Linked DNA regions of Homo sapiens. The protein of the gene in region 2 purifies or fractionates together with the protein of the main gene of each other region. This does not show direct contact. Each region holds a gene or a part of one and is shown on either strand. Other genes may lie near its edges. The genes, in order: HJURP, MTF2, AEBP2, SHPRH, HMGXB4, BCL11A and RMDN1.

What was found.
Region 1: the proteins of MTF2 (region 2) and HJURP purify together in Homo sapiens (affinity purification with mass spectrometry, with the first as the bait; one large-scale study listed by BioGRID). This does not show direct contact.
Region 3: the proteins of MTF2 (region 2) and AEBP2 purify together in Homo sapiens (affinity purification with mass spectrometry, with the first as the bait; one large-scale study listed by BioGRID). This does not show direct contact.
Region 4: the proteins of MTF2 (region 2) and SHPRH purify together in Homo sapiens (affinity purification with mass spectrometry, with the first as the bait; one large-scale study listed by BioGRID). This does not show direct contact.
Region 5: the proteins of MTF2 (region 2) and HMGXB4 purify together in Homo sapiens (affinity purification with mass spectrometry, with the first as the bait; one large-scale study listed by BioGRID). This does not show direct contact.
Region 6: the proteins of MTF2 (region 2) and BCL11A purify together in Homo sapiens (affinity purification with mass spectrometry, with the first as the bait; one large-scale study listed by BioGRID). This does not show direct contact.
Region 7: the proteins of MTF2 (region 2) and RMDN1 purify together in Homo sapiens (affinity purification with mass spectrometry, with the first as the bait; one large-scale study listed by BioGRID). This does not show direct contact.

Annotation. Positions count from the first base shown.
Region 1 is NC_000002.12:233,844,536-233,848,035, forward strand, and holds part of HJURP (Holliday junction recognition protein), read right to left. Parts: intron 2,927-3,500; coding exon 2,862-2,926; intron 1,286-2,861; coding exon 1,193-1,285; intron 1-1,192. UniProt on the Homo sapiens protein: Centromeric protein that plays a central role in the incorporation and maintenance of histone H3-like variant CENPA at centromeres.
Region 2 is NC_000001.11:93,134,783-93,138,282, forward strand, and holds part of MTF2 (metal-response element-binding transcription factor 2), read left to right. Parts: intron 1-1,887; coding exon 1,888-2,245; 3' UTR 2,246-3,500. UniProt on the Homo sapiens protein: Polycomb group (PcG) protein that specifically binds histone H3 trimethylated at 'Lys-36' (H3K36me3) and recruits the PRC2 complex, thus enhancing PRC2 H3K27me3 methylation activity.
Region 3 is NC_000012.12:19,456,492-19,459,991, forward strand, and holds part of AEBP2 (zinc finger protein AEBP2), read left to right. Parts: exon of another isoform or gene 1-1,218; intron 1,219-3,500. UniProt on the Homo sapiens protein: Acts as an accessory subunit for the core Polycomb repressive complex 2 (PRC2), which mediates histone H3K27 (H3K27me3) trimethylation on chromatin leading to transcriptional repression of the affected target gene.
Region 4 is NC_000006.12:145,957,859-145,961,358, reverse strand, and holds part of SHPRH (E3 ubiquitin-protein ligase SHPRH), read left to right. Parts: intron 1-3,500. UniProt on the Homo sapiens protein: E3 ubiquitin-protein ligase involved in DNA repair.
Region 5 is NC_000022.11:35,284,993-35,288,492, reverse strand, and holds part of HMGXB4 (HMG domain-containing protein 4), read right to left. Parts: intron 2,497-3,500; coding exon 2,432-2,496; intron 1,147-2,431; coding exon 1,041-1,146; intron 256-1,040; coding exon 86-255; intron 1-85. UniProt on the Homo sapiens protein: Negatively regulates Wnt/beta-catenin signaling during development.
Region 6 is NC_000002.12:60,463,155-60,466,654, forward strand, and holds part of BCL11A (BCL11 transcription factor A), read right to left. Parts: intron 1-3,500. UniProt on the Homo sapiens protein: Transcription factor. Associated with the BAF SWI/SNF chromatin remodeling complex. Binds to the 5'-TGACCA-3' sequence motif in regulatory regions of target genes, including a distal promoter of the HBG1 hemoglobin subunit gamma-1 gene.
Region 7 is NC_000008.11:86,477,687-86,481,186, forward strand, and holds part of RMDN1 (regulator of microtubule dynamics protein 1), read right to left. Parts: intron 2,647-3,500; coding exon 2,591-2,646; intron 1,325-2,590; coding exon 1,237-1,324; intron 1-1,236.

The DNA.
Region 1 (3,500 bases), on a different chromosome or scaffold from region 2:
TTACCCCAGGGGCGCTGGTAGCTTTCTTTGTCTAGCATTATACTCAGACCACAAGAACACCTAGGGGCCAACCGGACGGTGGACAAAGAAGACCCAGTAGATCCGTTCGTTCCTAACCCTAATCTGTTCCCTGGATCAACACAGCAACCAAGAGGACACCACTTGCTGCCTTGGGTTAAAGGAAAAAGCATTTCAGGTACATCCACTAAGTCGGTGGTCCACAAATACAGGCTTTCCGCTGGTCAGCAGCACAGTAAGAAAACACATACACCCCTGTGAGATTGCTGCCTTTTTCTGGAGATGAATTCTTATTCTGCAATGTGTACTTCCTAAGTATTTGGTGTTGCAATGTCCTTTATTCTATGGCAGAGGGCACTGACCTTAAGAGAGGGGTTGGCAGGTGAGTGTGCCCACCTCTCATGCCATCACATCCCCCCCCTCCCAACATGACCTCTCAGCAGGCGGGACAGGTGCCAAGGGTCAGCCTCCTCACCTTGCAGCTGATTCTAGCCTGATCGCACCAGGGAATGTGGGGACTATTGCTTCCCTAACTATGCAGCTTCAAATCCTGGTCCAGAGGTCAGGGCTGCTCTTAAGAGTCCCGTGTGTGGCCCCAATAGATTTTTTTTTTTTTGAGATAGAGTCTTGCTCTATCACCCTGGCTGGAGCACAGTGGCACAATCTCAGCTCACTGCAACCTCCGCCTCCTGGGTTCAAGCGATTATCCTGCCTTAGCCTCCCAAGTAGCTGGGATTACAAGCACGCACCACCACACCCAGCTAATTTTTCTATTTTTAGTAGAGATGAGATTTCACCATGTTGGCCAGGCTGGTCTCAAACTCCTGACCTCAAGTGACCCACCTGCCTTGGCCTCTCAAAGTGCTGGGATTACAGACATGAGCCACTGTGCCTGGCTGCCCCACTAGATTTTTCTGTGAGTTGCCCCAGAACAGTGGGCAGAGCACCCCTGCCAGGGCTCCCACCTTCCTGATGGCGCTGCCCTGGGGGACCTGGAGTGTTTATTCAAGAAGAGCAAGTATGTCAGCATGTGAATAAAACAATTTGGAAATCATTACTTCAAATGCTCTTTATGGGTTCTGTAGAAAAAACAAAAAGCATAATAACACTGTACCTCAATGTATTTAGTTTATGATCTAATTATATAAAAACAAACAACTGGGAAACAGATTACCTCAAAATACTCTGCACCTTGTAGCAGTATATCCACTTGGGTCAAGTATTTCCTTCTTAATTCATTTTTCAAAGGGCTTTGAGGCACTGCAGGCTGATCAAAAAAGAGAAGTCAGAATTTTTAAGAGCTTCTGAGTATAGCTGACCTTTTGGCTTCTGGAACAAACTGGCAAGCTCATTAATGTACAAATCTTTACATGATCCTACTCAAAGTCACTTTCACCTCCATGATGTTATTCAAAGTCACTTTTTCACTTCCTGCTATGTTAATAATCCAAAAGAATGTAAAAAGACACACACACACAAAAAAACCATGTCTAGAGAAGTTTATGACAGCATTGCTAGACCAGGAAAAAAAAAATCTGAATATTCATAGGTGAGTTCAGGACTCAACTACTGGTAATAACTTCAAACTGGTAAGTTTATAAGAAATTCAGTGCTCCTGGCTGGGTGTGATGGGTCATGCCTGTAATCCCAGCACTTTAGGAGGCTGAGGCAGGTGGATCACTTGAGGCCAGGAGTTCGAGACCAGCCTGGCCAACATGGTGAAAGTCCATCTCTACTACAATACAAAAATTAGCTGGGCATGGTGGTGGGCGCCTGTAGTCCCAGCTACTTGGGAGGCTGAGGCAGGAGAATCGCTTGAACCCAGGAAGTAGAGGTTGCAGTGAGCTGAGATTGCCCCACCGCACTCCAGCCTGGGTGACAGAGTGAAACTCCATCTCAAAAGAACCAAAAACAAAAACAGAAATTCAGTGCTCCAGCTCAGGAGGCTCTCCTACCCCTCCCCTGCTAGACACTGGAAATAGAGGGCGTCACCCTCTATCCTCTGCTGAGTGGGGCTGGCACTTTGGTTCTTGACTCTTGGTACCACCCACTTCCCCTTTGTTCCAATCCCTACACAATCTCTCAGTGAGCATCCACTTTCTTCCCCAGGACCACGGCCTTTTTCTTAGTCACTGAAAGTCACACATGGGTGCGTGGGAAACCCTCTGCACAAAAGTAGCAATTTTAGAGGAAAACCATGCATCAGGTATTCTGGCAGGCAACAGAGTGTGACACGGGGGCCAGGAAAGATGCTGGAGCTGGTTAAGCTCTGTGTAAATTCGCATCTATCCCAACCAAGGAGGATAAGAAGCACATCCCATAAGAAAACGGGTGGTTTCTGTGACCCAGGGGGCACTCTGGGAAACAGACATATAGATGACACTTACTGTTTGGGTTAGTGACGGCTGCCCAATGAGGCGACCTTGTGACTTGGGGCATTTGAGGACAGACCTGGAAATACTCCCTAGAACACCTCTCTTTTTACCCTGCCCCTGTAGGGGAGACTGACCGAGAGCCCAGCTTTCCTGTCGTGTGCTCATCCAGGCAGATGGCGCCCTGCCAACCACACTGACAGCTTTATCTGCAGAGTGAAAATCATCGTGAATCAGGCTTGCACTGGGGGTAGAACTGGCTGCCAGGTGCTAGACTGAGAGGAGGGCCTTACCGCTGAAGGGAATCGACACGAGGAAATCCGAGACTTGGAAGTAGCAAAAGCCAGCCTCAGGAGAGGACTTCCAGAAAAGTGCAGGCAGCGCTGCCCGCCTCAGGCCACATGGGCTTTGATGGACCCCTGAGCCCCCAAGCGCCCCCTCTGTCCATTCATTACTAAAGGCAGCACTTACTGCTAAGGCCCAAGCAACTGACTCTTCCTGGTCTGACGTGGCATCGACCTCACCGCTTTTTGAATCTAAAAGTCAAACAAGTAAATCTCAATCAGGATTTTCAGGAAGGAGTGCATTTTCCTCTCAAGGATGGTTTTGGCATCACTTCGAGTAAGTTGTACAGTAAAAATCCCCATTGCTTCAAGGGTGCACCCACTGGAGCCATCTACGGCTGCCCGTGGTTCTTAGTAACCCAGAGAACCCCTAGAATGGGAAACTGCCTGGGGCCATGGAGTGAGGAAAGGCAGATTCTGCACCACCTCCAGCTTTCCATGGCCTCTGAGCCTGGAAGTTGAGACGCTCAAGCCCAGCACTGCTCGACAGAACTTCCGGTGACCATGGAAAGTTCTCTGCCTGCTGTCCTAGGCCAGCCACTAGCCACACCGGGCTACTGAACAGCTGGGATGTGGCCAGTAAGGCTGAGGAAATGGATTTTAAATTTTATTTCACTTTCAACTAATTTAAATATCATCCAGAGAGGGCTGGTGGGTGCCATACTGGGCAGTACATCTATCAAATAACTATTTCCTGTGATTTCAAGCGGTTGGGGAAATTCATGGACCTAAGGATTTATAGTTAAAATCTGGATTAATAGCAGTA
Region 2 (3,500 bases):
TCAAGTGCTGGGATTACACGCCTGAGCCACTACAGCTGGCCAAGATTTGATTAAAAAAAAAAAAAAAAATCAGACACCTAAATCCTTTTGTCCATAAAATGATTTTAAACTTAAGATTTTCATCAATAGCAGACTCCCCTCTGATATCTTATTTAATCCAGCCCTTCAGAAGGACAACGTTTTTGTTTATTGTTTATTTTTTTTTGAGATGGAGTCTCGCTCTGTCACCCAGGCTGGAGTACAGTGGCATGATATCGACTCACTGCAACCTCCGCCTCCTGGATTCAAGCAATTCTGGCACCTCAGCCTCTCATGTAGCTGGGATTTACAGGCGTGCGCCACCATGCCCAGCTAACTTTTTGTATTTTTAATAGAGATGGGGTTTCACCATGTTGGCCAGGCAGGTCTTGAACTCCTAATCTCAAGTGATCCACCTGCCTCGGCCTCCCAAAGTGCCGGGATTACAGGCGTGAGCCACTTTGCCTGGCCAGGACAACTTTTCTCTAAAGCACATCATGTCAGGTATGAAAAGGTTAATCTATTTGGGGTCAGAGCTACTATTTTCAAGTTTTATACTTCATTCTGTTTAAATTTTGTTCATAATTCGAAAACTGCTGTTATAAATTATGCAAAATTCTACATTAAATGCTTAAAGTGTAACCCATTTATTAATGAATTCTGAATAATCGACTTTTTTGGGGCCTCTTACTAGATACTCTGCTAAGCTTTTTACAAATATTGTCTTATTTAATTCTTAAAACAATTTTTTGGCTGGGTGTGGTGGCTTATGCCTATAATCCCAGCACTTTGGGAGGCCAAGGTGGGAAGATTGCTTGAGGCAAGAGTTTGAGATGAGACCCCATCCCTACAAAAGAAAAAAATTATCTGGGCGTGGTATTGGTGTCTGTAGTCCTAGATAATCAGGAAGCTGAGGCGGAGGATTACTTGAGCCCAGGAGGTCAGGGCTCCTGTGAGCCATGATTGTGCCACTGCACTCCAGCCTGGGCAACAGAGTGAGACCTTGTCTCAAACAAACAAAAGAGAACAATTTTTTGAGTTGTGTAAGTCCTGTTGTTCTCATTTTACAGATGAGGAAAGTGAGACTTAGGGGATTTTAAGTAACAAGCCCAACATTGCATGTTTAGCAAGTATAACAGAGCTGGGTTGTTAACTTATACAGTATGACTGTAGGTCTTTCAATTTAGTTGTTGTACTATATTCTCCTTTTATTATAAAATCATAAAATAATTGAATTTCTGTGCTGAAAAGGACCTCACACATTATCCAGTCTAACCCCTTCACTCATTAAGTTCATGAACATAGAGATTGAGATTTGAATTTGGCCAAGTAATAGAGTTAGGGATAGACCCAGGATACTCTGACTGCTAGTTTGTGCTTATTCTGATTCTGGTGTATTACTTCACTAGGCCTAGAACTGGTAATAAGAGAACCTCTATTCTAGTTCCACTCTTTAAGGACATGGAGCAGTGTCATAGATGTAGTTTGTGCTCATTAATTATTTGTTCTAATGAACAAATGAATGAGCTCTTTTAAATGATGTGATTATTGGCAATACCTGATTTATGAGTAGGGCCTCTTCGTAAGAATTTTCCTTGTTGGCCTCCTAAGTAAAAAAATTACCCTAAACTTACTAGTAGTTAAGGAAGAAAAGCTCCACAAAGTTCAGCTCCAAGAACGTGACAAAATCTAAAGTAATGAGCCCAAGTGATAGTCCATTTATATAGCATTTATTGTTTGGGTTTGGCTCATTTTTATATCATCAAGGATATATGGTATAGTAGAGTAATCCAGAAAAGAGAACATATTGTATGGGCATAGGATGCTAAAAAAGCTCAGTAGACAATTCTGGCCTTCTCTGTTACATAGATTATCTGACTCCAGAAAAAGAACGCGTACAGGAAGATCTTGGCCTGCTGCAATACCACATTTGCGGAGAAGAAGAGGTCGTCTTCCAAGAAGAGCACTCCAGACTCAGAACTCAGAAATTGTAAAAGATGATGAAGGCAAAGAAGATTATCAGTTTGATGAACTCAACACAGAGATTCTGAATAACTTAGCAGATCAGGAGTTACAACTCAATCATCTAAAGAACTCCATTACCAGTTATTTTGGTGCTGCAGGTAGAATAGCATGTGGCGAAAAATACCGAGTTTTGGCACGTCGGGTGACACTTGATGGAAAGGTGCAGTATCTTGTGGAATGGGAAGGAGCAACTGCATCCTGACTGTAGGACTGAACATTATGTTCACTGCACTCTGATTTTCTGTAGGTACAGTTCAAAGCCCTAAAGGAGTCTGGCTTTTACTATCTTTCTTAAAAAAAAAAAAAAGTCAAAAAAATTCAAAAAAGGGGATGATACTAGCCTTAACATGTACCTGTCAATGTTATGGATATTGTCATAAAAAGGTATCTTTTAAAAATCAGAACAGAGACTTAATTTTTTAAATCTTAAGATTTGTAGAATGTTTCTAGGATAGGATATTAAAAATGATTGAAACCCATGCATGGTGTTAGACAATTTTTCTAATTATTCCATTGAGTCAGTTTTTTGTGATTAGTGATTATCAGAGCAAACATCATGTAGATAGCACAAGTATTTGGAGAAACGTTGTTTGTTTTGTTACCAAAATGTTGGAAAAATTTATTTCAATACCTTTTAGATTTCATAAAGTGCAGTGTATATAATGCCTACTGAAAGACTGTAAAATATTGAAATTTTCTTTCAAGCAAAGTGTAAAAAAATATATTGAGCCTGTAAATTGCTCTGTGACTAGACTTCATTGTCGTCTTAATATATTCTTGCATGTGCATATATATACACACGTGTATATATATGTGTGTGATTATGTGACCTATGCAATACAAATTATGGGAATGGGCAGCTTTGGAGTATATATCCCATAATTCTTTTTTCAGGAATAGTTGCAGTATTTACACAGCAGCATTTCTTCTCAGGCTTTTATTGGGTGCTGTTGCTTGCTATGTATGAAGAGAAATGTGTCAGACAAGTTTAGTGTGTTCTGAAGAAGGGTGTGAACAACAGTGTTCATGGGCTTTTAGAATGCTTTTCACTTTTAGTCCTTGTAACTCAGCTGTTCAGTACCTAAAACAAATTCAAATAATATGAACATTATCTCCTACTAGAAGTAACGTTTTCAAGTTTTCATGGCACATTATGATTGTAAATGTCTCTCATTTTTAACAGTAAGTCTATAGGAGTCCCGTGAAGATTCCTGAAATGTCTGTAGTAACTGTTAGTCATGTTTGAATAAGTGTAGTATGAACAAAGTATTTTATTGCACAGGGTTAACAAACAGTATGTTGCCAGCTGAGGCTACTGCTGTTTTATTACAACATTACCTCTTGTTTTTATAAAGTGTACCAAGATTTAAATTGATAACTTTATTTTACTTGTAAAAAAAAAGTTTCTTTTATCACCAGTGTTACAGTTGTCTTCTGTTTCTTTTTGTTTTGTTTTA
Region 3 (3,500 bases), on a different chromosome or scaffold from region 2:
CGATCCATCTTTTCCTTCAGCTCAGCAAACTTGCATGCAGTGTGAGCCGTGTGGCAATCCAGTACAGGGGCATAGCCAGCACTTATTTGGCCTGGAAGGTTCAGGATAATCACCTGAGCAGTGAAGCCAGCCGCTTCCATTGGTGGGTCATCTTTGCTGTCACCAGCATCATTGCCATGACGAACATCCTTGACAGACACATTCTTGACATTGAAGCCCACATTGTCCCCAGAAAGAGTTTCACTCAAAGCTTCATGGTGCATTTCGACAGATTTTACTTCAGTTTTAATGTTGACTGGAGCAAAGGTGACCACCATACCAGGTTTGAGAACACCAGTCTCCACTCGGCCAACAGGAACAGTACCAATACCACCAATTTTTGTAGACATCCTGGAGAGGCAGGCAAAGGGGCTTGTTAGTTGGATGAGTTGGTGGTAGGATGTAGTCCAGAGCCTCAAGCAGCATGGTTCCACTGGTATTGCCATCCTTACAGGAGGATTTTCGTCCCTTGAACCAAGGCATGTTAAAACTTGGCTCCAGCATGTTGTCACCATTCCAACCAGAAATTGGCACAAATGCTTCTGTGTCGGGGTTGTAGCCAATTTTCTTAATTTAAGTGTTGACTTCCTTAACAATTTCCTCATATCTCTTCTGGCTGTAGGGTGGCTCAGTGGAATCCATTTTGTTAACACCGACAATTAGTTGTTTCACACCCAGTGTGTAAGCCAAAAGGGCATGCTCCTAGGTTTGTCCATTCTTGGAGATACCAGCTTCAAATTCACCAACACTGGCAGCAACAATCAGGACAGCACAGTCAGCCTGAGATGTCCCTGTAATCATGTTTTTGATGAAGTCTCTGTGGTTAAGTCTCTGTGTCCTAGGGCATCAATGATAGTCACGTAGCACTTGCTGTTCTCAAATTTCCACAAGGAGGTATTAATGGTGATACCACGTTCACGCTCAGCTTTCAGTTTATCCAAGACCCAGGCCTACTTGAAGGAGCCCTTTCCCATCTCAGCAGCCTCCTTCTCAATTTTTTCAATGGTTCTTTTGTTGATGCTACCACATTTGTAGTTCAGATGGCCAGTAGTGGTGGACTTGTACGAATCTACGTGTCCAATGACGACAATGTGGATATGAGTCTTTTCCTTTCCCATTTTGGCTTTTAGGGGTAGTTTTCACAACACCTGTGTTCTGGCGGCAAACCCATTGTGAAAAGAAAAAAAAGCTAGTCAGAGAGATCTTTTCGGTTCCTACTAGTCAAAATGTCACAGCAGCATCAAGCGGGCACTTGTTAGAAATGCTTTATCTCAGGACCTACCCTAAACCTGCTGAATCAGAATCTGCAGTTAATAATACTGAATGCAGAATCTGCATTTGATTTGTATACACATGAAAGTTTGAGAAACACTGCTTTAGATTATCTAAGCTATCTGCATAGTGTGAGTGTATTGTCTGGCTTAGGTATTCTTCCAAATATCAGGGTGTATAGGTCTTCACATTTCATGAAATCAGTAGGTGTTCATTGAAAAGGAGAATTAACTGTGTGAAAAAATTTAACATATGTATGGTCCTAGAAATACTATAAGTTTAGGTGGATTGTCTCTTGTTACATAACGTATTATAGGAGGAAGGGCACTGCTTTCTGTGAAATTGCTATCTAGCTCAGGGTCCTGTCACAATCAGAAGTTACCTGTCATTTGTTTTCTGTCCTCTACTGTTGCATCAGGTCTGTTGCCTTCATCAGTCGAGAGAATGGAGAGGACCACTGGTGGCAGCATGGGTCTGGGGCCAAAAGGGAGCCTAGAGGCTTAGGATTGGATACTTCCTAGAAGTTGGAGGAGCCTAAGAGGGGTTGTGAAGCAGAACTTCTGTTGGCCCTGTTCAGCTTGGGGGAGACTCTGTGTGGGATGTCTTGAGTGTTCCAGGACGTGCCTCTCACCTTGTCTGCCATTGTATTCACAGCTTAGTCCCCAGTGGTAGGCAAAGCTCATGCTCTTAACATTTACATTATGTTGTCTTTATGAGGAGCTATATCCACATGAAGTATTGTTTCAAGTGTGTGATATCACACATAGACTCAACAATGATTACCGTTACCAGATTTTGGACTTTTTTATATGGTTCCTTTTCTTTGGCAAAGGTAATAAGCAAAAGTACATGAAGTACTATGTAGACAGACAGATTCCATAATGATGTTTCGCAGCTATATAAATCTCTCTTAACCTTACTGTGTCCAGTTAAAAAAAATCGATTTGGTTTTCAACTAATTTTGGACTTTTTAATAAAAGCAGTATAGGTACAGCATGGTTAAAATGGTATAAAAGGGTATATACAGTGAAAGATAAGTTTCTCTCCCACTCTTCCCTTCCCCCAAATATTTACTAGGTTTCGTATATCTTTCTGTGCCCTTGGAGACTAGCTATGTCTCTGTCTCCCTCCCCAACTTAGGTATGCAAATTGGATCATGACTACCCTGCACTTGTGTGTGTTTTACTTAACTATACCTTGGAGATTGTTCCATATCACATTGAGTTTTTATTGCTTTTCCTGAGATTGTTTATAAATTGGTTATGATTGGTTGTTCACTTAGAATTATTAGTATTTGCCTTGGAGTTAAATTAGTATAGTTTATGTAAGTATGTGCTTTACAGTTGAATGTTTTAAAATATTTAAAGCAAGTGATAGGGAAAATAGGTAACCATTTCAGGGTTAAGGGCCTCATGAAACTTGAAATTTCTTTTTTTTTCTTTTTTTTGAGACAGAGTCTCGCTCTGTTGCCCAGGCTGGAGTGCAGTGGTGCGATCTGGGCTCACCGCAAGCTCTGCCTCCTGGGTTCATGCCATTCTCCTGCCTTAGCCTCCTGAGTAGCTGGGACTACAGGCTCCTGCCACTATGCCTGGCTAATTTTTTGTGTTTTTAATAGAGACAGGGTTTCACTGTGTTAGCCAGGCTGGTCTCGATCTCCTGACCTCGTGATCCGCCCGCCTCAGCCTCCCAAACTGCTGGGATTACAGGCGTGAGCCACCGCGCCCGGCCGGGGGAAACTTGAAATTTCTAGGGTTTAAATAAAATATGTATTTCGGTATAGAAAAACCACCATACCCAAGGTTAGTCTTGCAACAACAAACAATATATGTATATTCAGATATTCAAGAGCTGATTCACATTTGAGAGTTTTACAGAGATTACAGAGTTTTAGAATGAAGCCTTAGAGTTGCACTTTAGAATCTATATTGACTAGGCAGGTAAATATATATTTATTGCATTTAACTAACTAGGTAGGTAGATAGATGAGCTTAAATACTAGAATATCCTTTAAAGGAAAACCTGAGACATTTTTCATATCTGAAGCATCCTACAAAAATATCTTTGCTTTTAAAAATGGATACGTTTCTAGCATGGGCAGCAAAACAAGACTCTGCCGCTACAAAAAAATAGAAAAATTAGCTCGGTGCAGTGGCTAATGCCTGTAGTCCCAGTACTTTGGGAGGCCAAGG
Region 4 (3,500 bases), on a different chromosome or scaffold from region 2:
TGCACCCTGGAATTTTTTAGGGATTCTAAAAAATAAAGGGAGTAGTGCCTGGGCCCTTCTCCAAGACATTCTGACTTAGTTGGCTCGACATCAGGATTTTTTTAAGTTCCCCTGGTGATTCTAATGTGCAGTCAAGTTTGAGAAGCACTAATCTGTGGTCCCCCATCCTGCGACATTACAGTTTGGTTATTGTGAAATGTGGTTTAGAGCAGGGGTCCCCACCCCTCAGGCCATGGACCGGTGCCAGTCCGTGGCCTGTTAGAACCGGGCTGCATTGCAGGAGGTGAGTTGCGGGCAAGCGAGCATTACCACCTGAGCTGTGCCTCCTGTCAGATCAACAGTCAGTAGATTACCATAAGAGCATGAATGCTATCGTGAACTGCATATGCGCAGGATCTAGGTTGTGCACTTCTTATTAAAACCTAATGCCTGATGATCTAAGGTGGAATAGTTTCATCCCTAAACAACCCCCTCTCCACTCCACCCCTCTCCTCCGGTCCATGGAAAACTTGTCTTCCATGAAACCCATTTATGGTACCAAAAAGGTTGGGAACTGCTGGTTTAGAGTGTTCTCAGGATGATGATAAGTAGCAACTACCATTTATGGAATACAGGCCAAATTTCTAGTACTGCTGTTGTACTTAAATTATTTCTAACCACAATCCTGCTATCATCCCCATTTTAGAGATGAGAAAATTGGCACAGAAGACTGGATAACTATTCCAATGCCACACAGTCAGTAAATGCCAAAGCTGGAATTAGAATGAATATAAGACTTCAAAGCATTGCATTCTCACCTTTAAGCCACATCGCTTTGCTAATGTGAGACTCTGCTAGACAGTTGCTTTTTGGGTTTTCAGAGTTAATGATTCCACAATAACCATGTTATTAATATTATTATGGTTAGTGTGATACATTGTGTAACTGGCCCAATTCCCTTCCAACACTCCCTCTACCCTTCCACCCCCCATATCCATGCTCTTTGCCATGTGCAGTTTCACCTAGTAAAGAGGTGTAGTATATTTCTTCACCACTTGACATTGGGTCCATGGATATGTCTTGCTTTGGTCTGTGGCACCTTAGTGGTTTTTAAGCACTTTGAAAACTACTTGTGTGATTGGATTTGCAGTAATACACCTCAACCATTGCCATAAAGAACATTCCTGAGTTACTTTGCTGATCCAAGGAGAGGGGATAGGAACTACATTAAGCAGAGCCAAACTGCTTTTCCAGAAACCTAGCCTAGATTAGCCTCCTTCAGCTAATGTGCAGATCTATGAGAATAAATGATTGCTATATCAAGGTATTGAGCTTTGAGGTAGTGTGTTACACAGCATGTTTGTGGCAGTAGTTAACTGATAAGCTACTATAGCATAACTTTTTAAAGTTCCTGCAGAGTGACCCACTTTCAGTATTCCAGCTTATGCTTTGAGGAAAACTGGACAAACATAAACACTTAGGAAATTAAGAGCTTTCTATATTATTCCACTAAGATAAGAGAGGATAAGATGCTTTAAAAGTAGTTGACCATAGCCAAGGATTGATTTTAATCCATCACCTGCACATTCATAAGTGAAGCACGGGCTAAGGGAATAGAATTCTCATGATTGACTTAAACAAGCACTGTCTGATACATAGACTTTTTGCAATTATGTGAATGCTCTATATTTGTGCTGTCCAGTACAGTAGCCACTAGTCACATAGCGCTACTGAGCACATGGGGCTAGTGAGACTGAAGAGCTGAGTTTATAACATTTAATTTTATTTATAGTCATGCATCACTTAATGATGGGGCTGTGTTTTGAGGAATGCATCATAGGCAAGTTTGTTGTGTGAACATCTTAAGAGTATACTTACACAAACCTAGGTGGTACCGCCAGCCTACTACACACCTAGGCTCTATGGTACAGCCTGCTGCTCCTAGGCTACAAACCTGTACAGTATATTCGGTACTGGATACTGTAGGCAGTTGTCACACCGTAGTATTTGTATATTTAAACATATTTAAATATAGAAAATGTACAATAAAGATATGGTATAAAAGATAAAAAATAGTACACCTTTGTGGGGTACTTAGCATGAATGCAGCTTATAACACTGAAGGTTGCTCTGGGTTAGTCAGGGAGTGAATGTGAAGGCCTGGGACATTACTGTACACTTCTGTAGACTTTGTAAACACTGTACACTTATGCTACACAAAGTTTATTAAAAAATAAAGTAATGCGGCTAGGCGCGGTGGCTCACGCCTGTAGTCCCAGCACTTTGGGAGGCTGAGGCATGCAGATCTTGAGTTCAGGAGTTCAAAACCATCCTGGCTAACACATGAAACCCCGTCTCTACTAAAAATACAAAAAAAAAGTTAGCTGGGCATAGTGGCAGGCGCCTGTAGTCCCAGCTACTCAGGAGGCTGAGGCAGGAGAATGGCATGAACCCAGGAGGTGGAGCTTGCAGTGAGCAGAGATCACGCCACTGCACTCCAGCTGGGCAACAGAGTGAGTCTCTATCTCAATAAATAAATAAATAAATAAATGCATTATGATGTTACAATGGCTATGATGTCACTAGTCCATAGGAATTTTTCAGCTCCCTTATGGAACCACTGTAATATTTGGTCCCTCATTGACCAAAATGTCATTATACAATGCATAACTGTATTGAAAGTTAAGTAGTCACATGCAGCCAATAACTACCTTATTGGATTTGCTTTGGCCAATAGTAGCTAGAAACTACTTCCTTGGAGGTGCCAAGGAAATCACTTCCTTTGAATCATAGGGCCACCTTGTTCCTAAATAAAGGTTCAGTCATCAGGGAAGGAGGATAGACCTTAGGCAGGTAAATAATGTCACTTTAGTTTCTTTTATGGTTATTGGTCTATTCATATTTTCCTTCTTGGGCCAGTTTTGTTCATTTGTATTTTGTTAGCAAAATTTTATCACTTTATAATTTATCATTTTATCTAGATTTTTCAGATTTATTGAATAAAGTTATACTTAATATTAAAATTTCTAAATCTCGTGCATCTTTTTGTTTTTGCTCTTTAAATCAACTTTATGATATAATTTATGTATAAGAAAATTCAATTTAAAGTATATAATTTGATGAGTTTTGACAGATGTATACTCTGCAATCATGTGTTGAACATTTATGTCACCCCAAAGCCTGCCTTCCTGCTCCTTTACTGTCAGTCACCTCTTTATACTTCCTTGCCCCTGGTAACCACTCATCTACTTTCTGCAATCAGGTTTTTGCCATTTCTAGAATTTCATGTAAATGGAATCATATAGTATATAGTCTTTCACATCTAGCTTTCTTCAGTTTAGCATAATGCTTTAACAGTTCATTCAGGTTATTTTACAGAAGTCTCTTTTTATCACAGAATAGTATTCCATTGTGTGACTATGCCACAATTTGTCCATTCACCAGTTGATGGACATTTGGGTTTTCTTCCAGTTTGGGGCTTTTAATAGTAAAGCTGTTAACATTCAAGTTTAAATTTTTGT
Region 5 (3,500 bases), on a different chromosome or scaffold from region 2:
ATGTATGTAAAATGAGTGAATGAATCAAAATTATATGGGAAACTATATGGGAAACTGTAGTCATGCTGCTGATAGTTGTATTCACCTCAGTTTCCTGCAGACGGTGTCCAATGAGGCTTAGGGACTCTCCCAACAGCTGAAGATGAGCAGCAACATCAATGGGCTCTGTCTCAGGGGCTTTGGCTGGTGAGGCTGGTAACAGCATGGTGGTGGGTGGGGACTTCTTCTGGGGTGACAGTACTCCTACAGAAGAGGCTGAGAACAGAGCAATGAGGCAGACAGGTAAAACTTGCCTACAGCCTTGAACAACACAAAGTTGTTCTTCCTGATTTTCCCTTTTTATGAATTATACCAGGCATTAGCAAAACTGTGGCCTGTGGGCTAAATTCAGTCTATGGTCTCTTGTTTTTTATGGCCTGTGAGTTAGGAATAGTTTTACATTCTTAAAGGGCTATAGAAAAACAAAGAATATGTGACAGAGAATGCGAGAATGCATACGGCACACAAGGCCTATAATATTTACTCTCTGGACCTTTTTTTTTTTGAGATGGAGTTTTGCTCTTGTTGCCCAGGCTGGAGTGCCATGGCACGATCTCGGCTCACCGCAACCTCCACCTCCCGGGTTCAAGCAATTCTCCTGCCTCAGCCTCTCTGGTAGCTGGGATTACAGGTATGCGCCACCACGCCCGGCTAATTTTGTATTTTCAGTAGAGACGGGGTTTCTCCATGTTGGTTAGGCTGGTGTCGAACTCCTGACCTCAGGTGATCCGCCCACCTTGGCCTCCCAAAGTGCTAGGATTACAGGCATGAGCCACTGCGCCTGGTCTACTCTCTGGACCTTTAAAGAAAAAGTTTGCTGACTTCTGATTTGCATTTTCTAAATTTGAACATCTCTTTTTGGTAGCTTGTAACATTCCCAGGTAATAATACCTGGGAATCAAGGTCCACTTCTAATACTGCAAGCTTTTTTCCCAGTTTCTTAGCAAGGAAGCAAAATTCACATGCTTTAGAGAAAAGCAGGGGCGGGATGTGGTCACTACCTTTGACTTTCATGGAACCTTCTGAGCTGGATGCTTTCCTTTTCACAGTTGTGGCTTCTGCTTTGTTCTGTTTGTGCTGCAGATACTGAGCTTTTTGCTTCCAAATCTGCAATCACATCAGTGAACATTAAATTAAATTAAGAAGGACAAAATGTAAAAGGAAAAGCAGTCATGAAAGAACAAAATGGAGAAAAGAAAGGCAATAGTAAGAGGCGGGCAGACAGAGGGTTAATGCTAACTTTTAAGCTGGGGGTCACCGAACTGACTTCAGACAGCTGACTACATTAATATCTTAGTAAAGGACTATAAACATTCCTCAATGCTAATGGTCAAATCTCGGCACTGATTTTTAGATCACTCTAAGTTGAAATGTAAAATCACAGATTAAACCTCTGGCTCAATATAATGTCTATGTGGTTCTACTAACCTGCTAGTTGGCAATACCAACACAATAGCAGAATAACAATAACAAGGAAAACAAAAACTAAGGATAATCTGGGTGAAGAATGGCTGTTCATCTAGATGACATCTTGCTCCTATATGACCTTCATATCATAAGTCTCAATGATTCAGATATGACTTTTTTTTTTTTTTTTTTTTTGAGATGGAGTTTTGTTCTTGTTGCCCAAAGCTGGAGTGCAATGGTGTGATCTTGGCTCACTGCAACCTCCGCCTCCGGGGTTCAAGTGATTCTCCTGCCTCAGCCTCGCGAGTAGCTGGGATTACGGGCATGCGCCACCATGCCTGGCTAATTTTTTGTATTTTTAGTAGAAATGGGGTTTCACCATGTTAGCCAGGCTTGTCTCGAACTCCTGACCTCAGGTGATCCACCGCCTCAGCCTCCCAAAGTGCTGGAACTACAGGCGTGAGCCACCGTGCCCAGCCCAGATATGACTGTTTATCAGTGTCTTACTACCTTCTTGATAGTAGAGTACATTATTTGGTAATGGTTGATGAGGATGATGACCTTGAACCTGGTTACCTAGTAATCACATTCTCATATTTTTATTGTTTGCAGTGACTGCTAAGTGGATAACTTTCCTCAGTTCTCAGACCATGACTGATTACTAGGTGTTTGCAGTAAAGGGCTCTGATTTTAGACTTTCTTTTAACACTTTAATTACTCCTCAACTTAGGTCATCTTTTGGCTCAAATGTAACACTGCTGGAAAAAACAGACCAGGTTAGAAAAGACAGCCTTGCTATAGCTAAATCCTCATGTACAGTGAACTGGCACTAACAGTGTTAATGTCCTCTGCTAAACCATTTTCTGTTGATTTGTAATTTTCTTCACTATTTTCAGTGCTGTCTGGCTGGCTAGTCTATGGAAGAATTACATATTTTGGAAGGCGAGAAGCACTGAAAAATATGTTTGTAAGAAAATGTACTTACCAGTTTGTCTTTTTCTGGTAATTGCTTCCACACCTCAGCCAGTTTTTTACTAAGTTCCCCAAAATCTGGCATAAAAGAGTAAAACACTCAATACAGTAAAGGGTTAGCTATTAACAAAATAGAAGATTGGTGAAAGCAAAAACTGGAAAAGGGTTTTGAAGCTCATATTTAAATGTTGCAAGATGCTTTCAGAAAACCAACCCCAATCCCATCACTCTTCTTTGATTTTTTTCTATAGGGAAGGGGATGTTTTGATGGTCAGGAGACAGTCTCAACTCGTAACCCATCTACTCCCTAGGGATTTATTCCTTAAGCATCTTTCTGGTGTCTTTTTTTGAGACTGAGTCTGGCTCTGTTGCTCAGGCTGGATTGCAGTGGTGTGATCATGGCTCACAGCAGCCTCAACCACCTGGGCTCAAACCACCCTCTCACCTCTGCCTCCCAAGTAGCGGGACCACAGGCGTGGGCTACCATGCCTAGCTAATTTTTTAAAATTTTTTTCTTTTTTCTTTTTTTTGAGACGGAGTCTCGCTCTGTCGCCCAGGCTGGAGTGAAGTGGCGTGATCTCAACTCACTGCAACCTCTGCCTCCTAGGTTCAAGTGATTCTCCTGCCTCAGCCTCCGGAGTAGCTGGGATCACAGGCGTGCACCACAATGCTTGGCTAATTTTTGTATTTTTAGTAGAGACGGGGTTTCACCATGTTGGCCAGGCTGGTCTCGAACTCCTGACCTCAGGTGATCCACCCACCTCGGCCTCCCAAAGTGTTGGGATTACAGGCGTGAGCCACCACGCCCAGCTATTTTTTAAAATTATTATTTGTAGAGATGAGGTCTCGTTATGTTGCCCAAGCTGCTCTCAAACTCCTGGGCTCCAGCAATTCTCCTGCTTCAGCCTCCCAAAGTGCTGAGATTATAGGCATGAGCCACTGCATCCTGCCTCTGGTGTCTTTAATTTGATCCCACAATACAAGGCCTATCAACTTAGGTTAAAAAATATGTGTAGAATTTGAAAAAAGATGTTAGGTTTTTACCAAATTTCTGAATGATTAGAACCAAAGAAGGATTTCCC
Region 6 (3,500 bases), on a different chromosome or scaffold from region 2:
TATCTCAAAGAATGTTTAAAAAATCTGAAAGAAAAACTTCATTCAGATTTAACGGATAGGCTGTATCCAATCTTTAGGAGTTGTCCCCCGGTCAGACAAATGCAAGTCTGGAAAAGTTAGGAGGAGTGGCTGGTGCCGACTTAAGCAGACACAGCATCCTAGTTTAAGGAACAGTTAAAACAGCCAGCGCCATGACAGGCAGCAGGCTGAGAAATGCTACACTATCCTCCTCCTCATTGTTTTGAGAGGCTAACAACGTGAACCAAATTATACAACATCCTGCGCCCTCGGCTGGGACTCAGCTCCAGTTGAGAAAGAAACAGAAAGATACAGTTCAGCTAGTCAACTCTGGCCAGTAGCCAAGCCGTCTGGAGAGGGGCCCTGCTTAAGTCACATTATTTCCCTTGCTGAAAAGAACCCAAGAGTGGTAAATGCCACTTTGGCAAAGAAGGGCCAGCTTGACTTCACAAAATATTTCATTTGGGGAGATGGCTAAATTAAATATATATGGGGAGATAGCTACATTAAATATATATATATATGGAATAACTGACCAACAGTTTACTAGTCAACTGCAACATTAAAAAGGGCAGAAGTAATGGTAGCCAAAGGACGAGGATGAGAAAAACAAAACTTCCCAGAGATTCTGAAAAAAAAAGCCTTAAAATATAACTGAGAAATAACAAACTTTTCTCCTTCTTTTAAAAGAAGGGCTGCAAGAGTTCTTTAAGGCCACAGCTAGTATTTGTCAGTAACTTTCTAAGAAGGAAAAAAAAAAAAAATCTACCAGGGAGGTTAAGAGTGAGAATGAGGAATTAATCAATTATATGATGCCTCCATTTAGCAAGTCAGAAAGAAAAGCCGGCAGGGTCTTCTCAGGAGCCCCCAAACACTGGTATTCCAAAATAAGCCAGCCTCGCTCAAGCACTTGTCTAAATAATGGACTCCTGCCCTGACCTTGTAATTTACTTTACAACGCATTTATAATCCCACTCAATATATCTCACTCCTGGGTAAATCTCTTAAACAAGATTAGATGGTAAGATACCAAAATTAGGTTTCAAACATTTGTCTAATGTGGAAGGGGGAAAAAAGGCAGAAAGATTTTGAAAGAAAACGCTGACATTAGTATCACATTATCTGCCTATTTTTGTTTGCCTCCTCTCTTCAAAGGGAAATAAAAAGCTTCATTGAGAACATTTTTATAAATTTTTTGTTGTTGTTGAACAATAACTTGGGTCCCAAATAGGCTGGAAAAAAAACTATCTGGTTCCAACTACATGATCCTCTGTGGCTTCCTCCTTGTCCTCCCTAGATCTCTGGGTGACTATCATTCCTATTTAGCCTGACGATCTGAGTTGGGCAAGTAAAAAGATTTGTCTGATAATCCAAGTCCTTAACACGTTCATCACTCCAAATGCCTTAAAATTATATTTTACCTTATAAAACATCGATTGAAATCCAGGACTAGACTCATAATTAGTGGTGCTGGTTTCACATGTGCCATGAATTGTAGTCATTGATAAATGCCAAAATCTGTGGCATACAGCACTACATCAAGGATCTCATTTGTATCCTTTCAAAAAGGCTTAAATGAGAAAAGTCCATTTTATTTTGCTGCCCTGAGCATCCTAAACTTTTTTTCAGAGCCAGTTATGTGATCATGCTACAGTATGTTAACACTGTGATGTTATCCTCCCCTCTCTCTCATACATCAGGTCAGAGAAAATGGCATTTTATCTTATAATGAGCATACAACATACAGTTTTCACTATCGCATTTTAGTATTCCCATCAACTAGATATTCTAGATCATGAGGGCAGCTAGTGTAATCATAATGTCAATGAGAAGGGCTGTTACGATTGAGACTAAAGATTACATGGAGAGAGCTGCTTTGAAACTGGTAATTATTACCAGTCCACTAATAGCAAATGATGCATTACAATTTCACCATATAATCTGTATTTCACTCAGCTCATGCCGGTGTACCATATTATATTACAGTGCTCACAGATTCTAAATTCCTAAACTGCAGTCATCAATAAATGTGTTACTTGCCATAATTTGTGAAATTACTTTGTTCATAACATCTTTGATGATTTAGAAAGACTGGAATTGATTTCCTGTGTGGCAAAATTAGGGCTACATTGATTTATTGATGTGTAAAATATAATAATATTCTTCATTTACTCTGATGAAAATCAACTTCTCAATTTGAGAGCCTCATTGGGCATTTACGGGGATTGTTTTGATTTAGAGCAATAAACTGACACCTGGCCCCTAAGCATAGGAACTTGAGACATCAAAAGGGTTAAAATCAGCTATTAGCCCACCTACTGGCTTTTATTTTATTTCATTTTACTTTATGGGAAGGAATGACCCCCATTTCTAGTATGTCACCAATGTGAAAAAGTCATGTGATCTAAGCCTCAAGATTCAGAAGAACAAGGAGGTCTGAGACTGGAGGCCTAGCTCTATTATCCACTAGATTGTAACTCTGGGATAGTCATTTGATTTCTCTGAGTCTTGGAATTCCTATCTGTAAAATGAGCATAAAAACAGTACCTGTAAGAATTGTTGGGAAGTTCAAATGACAGAAGTATATAAAAGCCCTCTGTAAACTATCAGGTCGAATGTGAATGTGAGTTTTCATTACTACCAGGGGTGATTAATTACTGAGGGTAATGACTAACCACATTACACACCCCGAACGGCTTCCAGAGGAAGGTCCCAGTCCAGGCCTTAACCCAGGCCAAAAGGAGGCTCTAGTTAAAGAGCAGGGGTGACTGGCACACAGCAGAGTGGCCACAGGGAAGTGCTATGAGCTCTGGAAGCCAGGGGCAGCAGGTTAATGCCGCCAAGTGGAATGGGCATCAGGTTTGTTCTAGAGCTTTCTGGACCCCCACAACCCACTTCCACATACCTTGTTCTGGTCACTCCTAAATTGGTCCTGCCAGCAGGGGCACCAGCAAACTATGTACCCTCCCTTTGTGGGAAGGTGGGAGAGGACAGGGGTTCCCTATCAAGCTCAGACTTTCCTACCAGTCAAATCAAACTCCCAGCCCTCAGGAAGACCAGGCTGAAGACCGAGAACTATGTTTCCCTGGCAACAGCCCTTGGCCTCTCAACTCCACCCTCCTCTGAACTGCTCAACTCCCTTCTATCCCTTCCCTCCAAAAGTGGCTCCGTTTCCACAGCCCCATGCAGGCCCCAGATGCCCCCAGCAACAGGAGAGCTCTCCCCACCCAGCCAGCATGCAGGGACTAGAAACCGTGAGCCCAACCTCCTAAACCTTCTGCAATCTGTGACCTAACCCAGGCTTAGGCCCAGCTTGGGGGAAGGGAGCAGATGAGGTGCTTTTAACCCCTGAACCACCCAGCCCTCAGGACCTGAGGGCTTATGAAATTCACACAATAACTCTTTGTTACCTAGGATTACCTAGGAGTTAACAAAAATAAACAACTGGCTTTGAATCTGGTCTCAGGGTGCATGCCCTGCTC
Region 7 (3,500 bases), on a different chromosome or scaffold from region 2:
GAATTTATTCGTTGTACTAGTGAATTTTTAAGAGTCCATTATTATTGAAATTCCTACATACAATGTTAAGTCTGAAACTCTTTTTGTCCTACTTAAGCTACTGTTTTTGTAATGCATTCTCTAATGACATTTGATTTCTAGAAACATAACTAATTTGATAAAGTAGAGCTGACTATATTTTTTGTCCTTAAAATGACCTGTCTTAAAAAAAAAAAAAAAGAACCAGGTCTCACTCTGTTGCCCAGGCTGGAATGCTGTAGCGCAATCACTGTTTATTGCAGCCTTGACCTCCCAGGCTCAAGTGATCCTTCTCCCTCAGCTTAGCTGAGTGACTGGGACTACAGGCACAGGCCACCACACCTGGCTAATTTTTGTATTTTTTTTGCAGAGGTTTTGCCACGTTGCCCAGGCTGGTCTCAAACTCCCAGGCTCAACTGATCCACCAACCTTGGCCTTCCAAAATGCTGGCATTACAGGCATGAGCCACCGTGTCCAGCAAATGGGCATTATTTTAATAATACCATTATAAAATATTGGTGCATTATTTTAATAATATTTCTCAACTGTGTGTAAAGAATACAACTAAGTATTTTTTACATCAATTTCTACACTATAGCTTCCCAGAAAGAAAAAAAAGCTCCTTGTTATAATGTAAATAATACAAGTACAGCTTTTTCGATTGCCTGTTTTCTTACTCTGAAAAGCTTGTGATGAGTAAACCCAAAGTTTAACCAGAAATTCCTCTCAAATCTTATTTTTAACAAGAAAAGCAAAAGGCCTTGAAAATATGAGAGAATATGAACCTTTCATATGCTTTTTAAAATAGAAGTTATAATGAGTGTTCTTCTTTTATCAACTTAAGCATCTGCTTTACTTTTCTGTTATTGTGTGTAATACAGCTAAAACATGCTGGGTAACAGATGCTGTATTTCTTGTTCTATTTTATGACTTCAATATAGTTTAGATTTCAAACAGAAAATGAAGGTAGATTTTAGCCACGAGCCATTTTAGATGACAGTATTCCAGAATTACCAGCCACTCACCTAACGGGGAAAAAGAAAACCACTCACCAGTCAAGGATAATAAGTGTTAAGCCTTGTGATAACACAGTTGAATTGGATCATTAGAAATTGCTCAAGTCCCTCACTGAATCAGAGCTCCACATGTGTGAACACATGGTAGAATGGCGCTGTGGTTAAGAAATCCGTACTAACTTAACAAAGGACATCATACTACCTTCTCATAGGTGGAACTAGGAGGAGTTGCAAACAGCATTTTAGCAATTCTTCTTTGATACCAAGGCATTTCGGCAAATGTATAGCACCTACAGGGAAATAAAACAATTTTATACATTCAAATTGTACCTTCTTTTCTCTTAAAGTTAACTAAGCATCTTAATACTATAAAAGGAATCTTCTACTGTATGTTTAAACAACTTGTGCTTTACATGATATCTACTAGGTAATCCAGAGATTGACATAGTGATCCTTTAGCTGGGGGGTGTATTTTGTGATTAAATATAAATAGTAAGCAGTCATACTAATAACAGTAATATAATATACATCTACCACTGAGTGCATTGTGCCAGGTAGTGGGTTGATTCTCTCATTTATTCCTTGTAACAATTATATATGAGATAGGATAATTTCCCCTATTTTTCTTATAAGAAAAACTCAGAGAAGTTAAACCTTACACAAGAAAAATGACAAAGCTAAACATCAAATGTATAAATAACAGCAACCAACAACTTAAATCTATTTTTAAAGCAGCAAAGCAAATGATTAACCTCCAAAGATCTTTACAACTTTCAGAAATAAGTAGGAAAGAAAGTGTTGCATCTTTGACTAGGGTCTGAAGTCCTTAAGGCAGAAATTGCTATTTCATTTGGGTTTGCTTACTAGCATCTGACTTAGTGACTGCCCCTCAATTATCATTAATCCTCAGTGAATGAGTGTTAGCTTAATATGTCCTTTATCCTGAAGAATATATTTCTCTTTTAAAAGAGTTTGATACAGGACAGTTTACACTGGTACCCTTCTTAGATGGCAGTAAATATTCAGCTCTGCAGGCTATACTCAAAAGAGTGTCCCATCTATCTCAAAACAGACTCTTAAACCATCAAGTACGTAACACTTTGATAAAGCCTCATACCAGCAAAATAATAATCTACAGTGGACATAAGATCACATAAAAATAGAAAGATACTGAAAATCAGATTATATGGTTCCTCAGATTAATCAAGACTGTATCTGACACACTTTGAAGATACAAAGACCCTCTTGGGGCATTCTACTGTTTTACTATAGTTACATTAATCTAATTTCATTTAGCATGGTAAATAAGAATAGTCTTTTCAGTCTGTACATGTTTCTAAATGACCTGAATAACAATGTTTAACATGGTCATAATCAAATTTAGTATGTTCTAACAATATATATACAAGGGCTAGTTAATGGATTTAGCACTCTAAGCTCTGTCAGATAATATTTTAAAATATTTAATATCTTTTATATATGCAAAAGAAGATATTTATACATACTACAAAATATCACACTAAATACTACTGAAATATTTAAAGAAATTTTCTTACCAAATACCCATAAGGTGAATTGAAGTAGCATCTTTAGGGTTCAGTTCAATTGCTTTCTAACAAGAAATGAGAAAAATAAATCATATTTGTTTTCTAAACACCAATAAGTGCTTTACTGTGTTTGCTGAAGAAGCCATGATTTTTTAAAAAATGCAACTGTGTGTTTCAGTTCTCCCATTATAATATCAACTTTCTTCCTCCTGATTCTTTGATTAAATTCATTTCAAAACACTATTAATGACTTATACTAATGTTACTATTTTGTATGGTTCAGACATTTATAGTAAGTGTCTATCAAGATGAGAAAAAACATGAAATACATAAATGGATTAATTTTGCAAATTAATCTTGCAAATTAATCTATAGCTCTTAATGTTTCTTCCAAATTAAAGGAAAAATGGATAAGGAAGTACTTTCTTGGCAAACTGTAGATGAATACTGAATAAAAGTCATTCTTTCCTAAAGAAGAAAAGTGCATTTTAGTTTTTTAGAAAAAATGTAATTTTAGAAAGTCTCTTCTATGCAGATTTTAGAAAGTCTTTTCTATTTTTAGAAAGTCTTCTTGTATGCAGATTTTGTTCAACTTCCCCATCTGTACTTACCAAAGGAAAAATAAACAGTTTATAGAATATTAATAGAATAATTATGTGCAATGTAAAATATGTTGAATCTCCCTAATTTATATTTACTATGTGAATATAAACTACAGAATAAAGAAACTGTTCCTCCTTTTATCCATTATTTTGTTGAAAACAACTAAAGAAATCTTACAGATTAATGTTCATATTAAAAGGACTCTTTTTGAAAAAATTAAGATTTCCTAGTTTATGCTTTTCTATAAACCCACACTTTTGCTTTCAGTTTAGTAATGTGTGAGGTACACATTTTCAAATATTTGTAATGGTTAAGA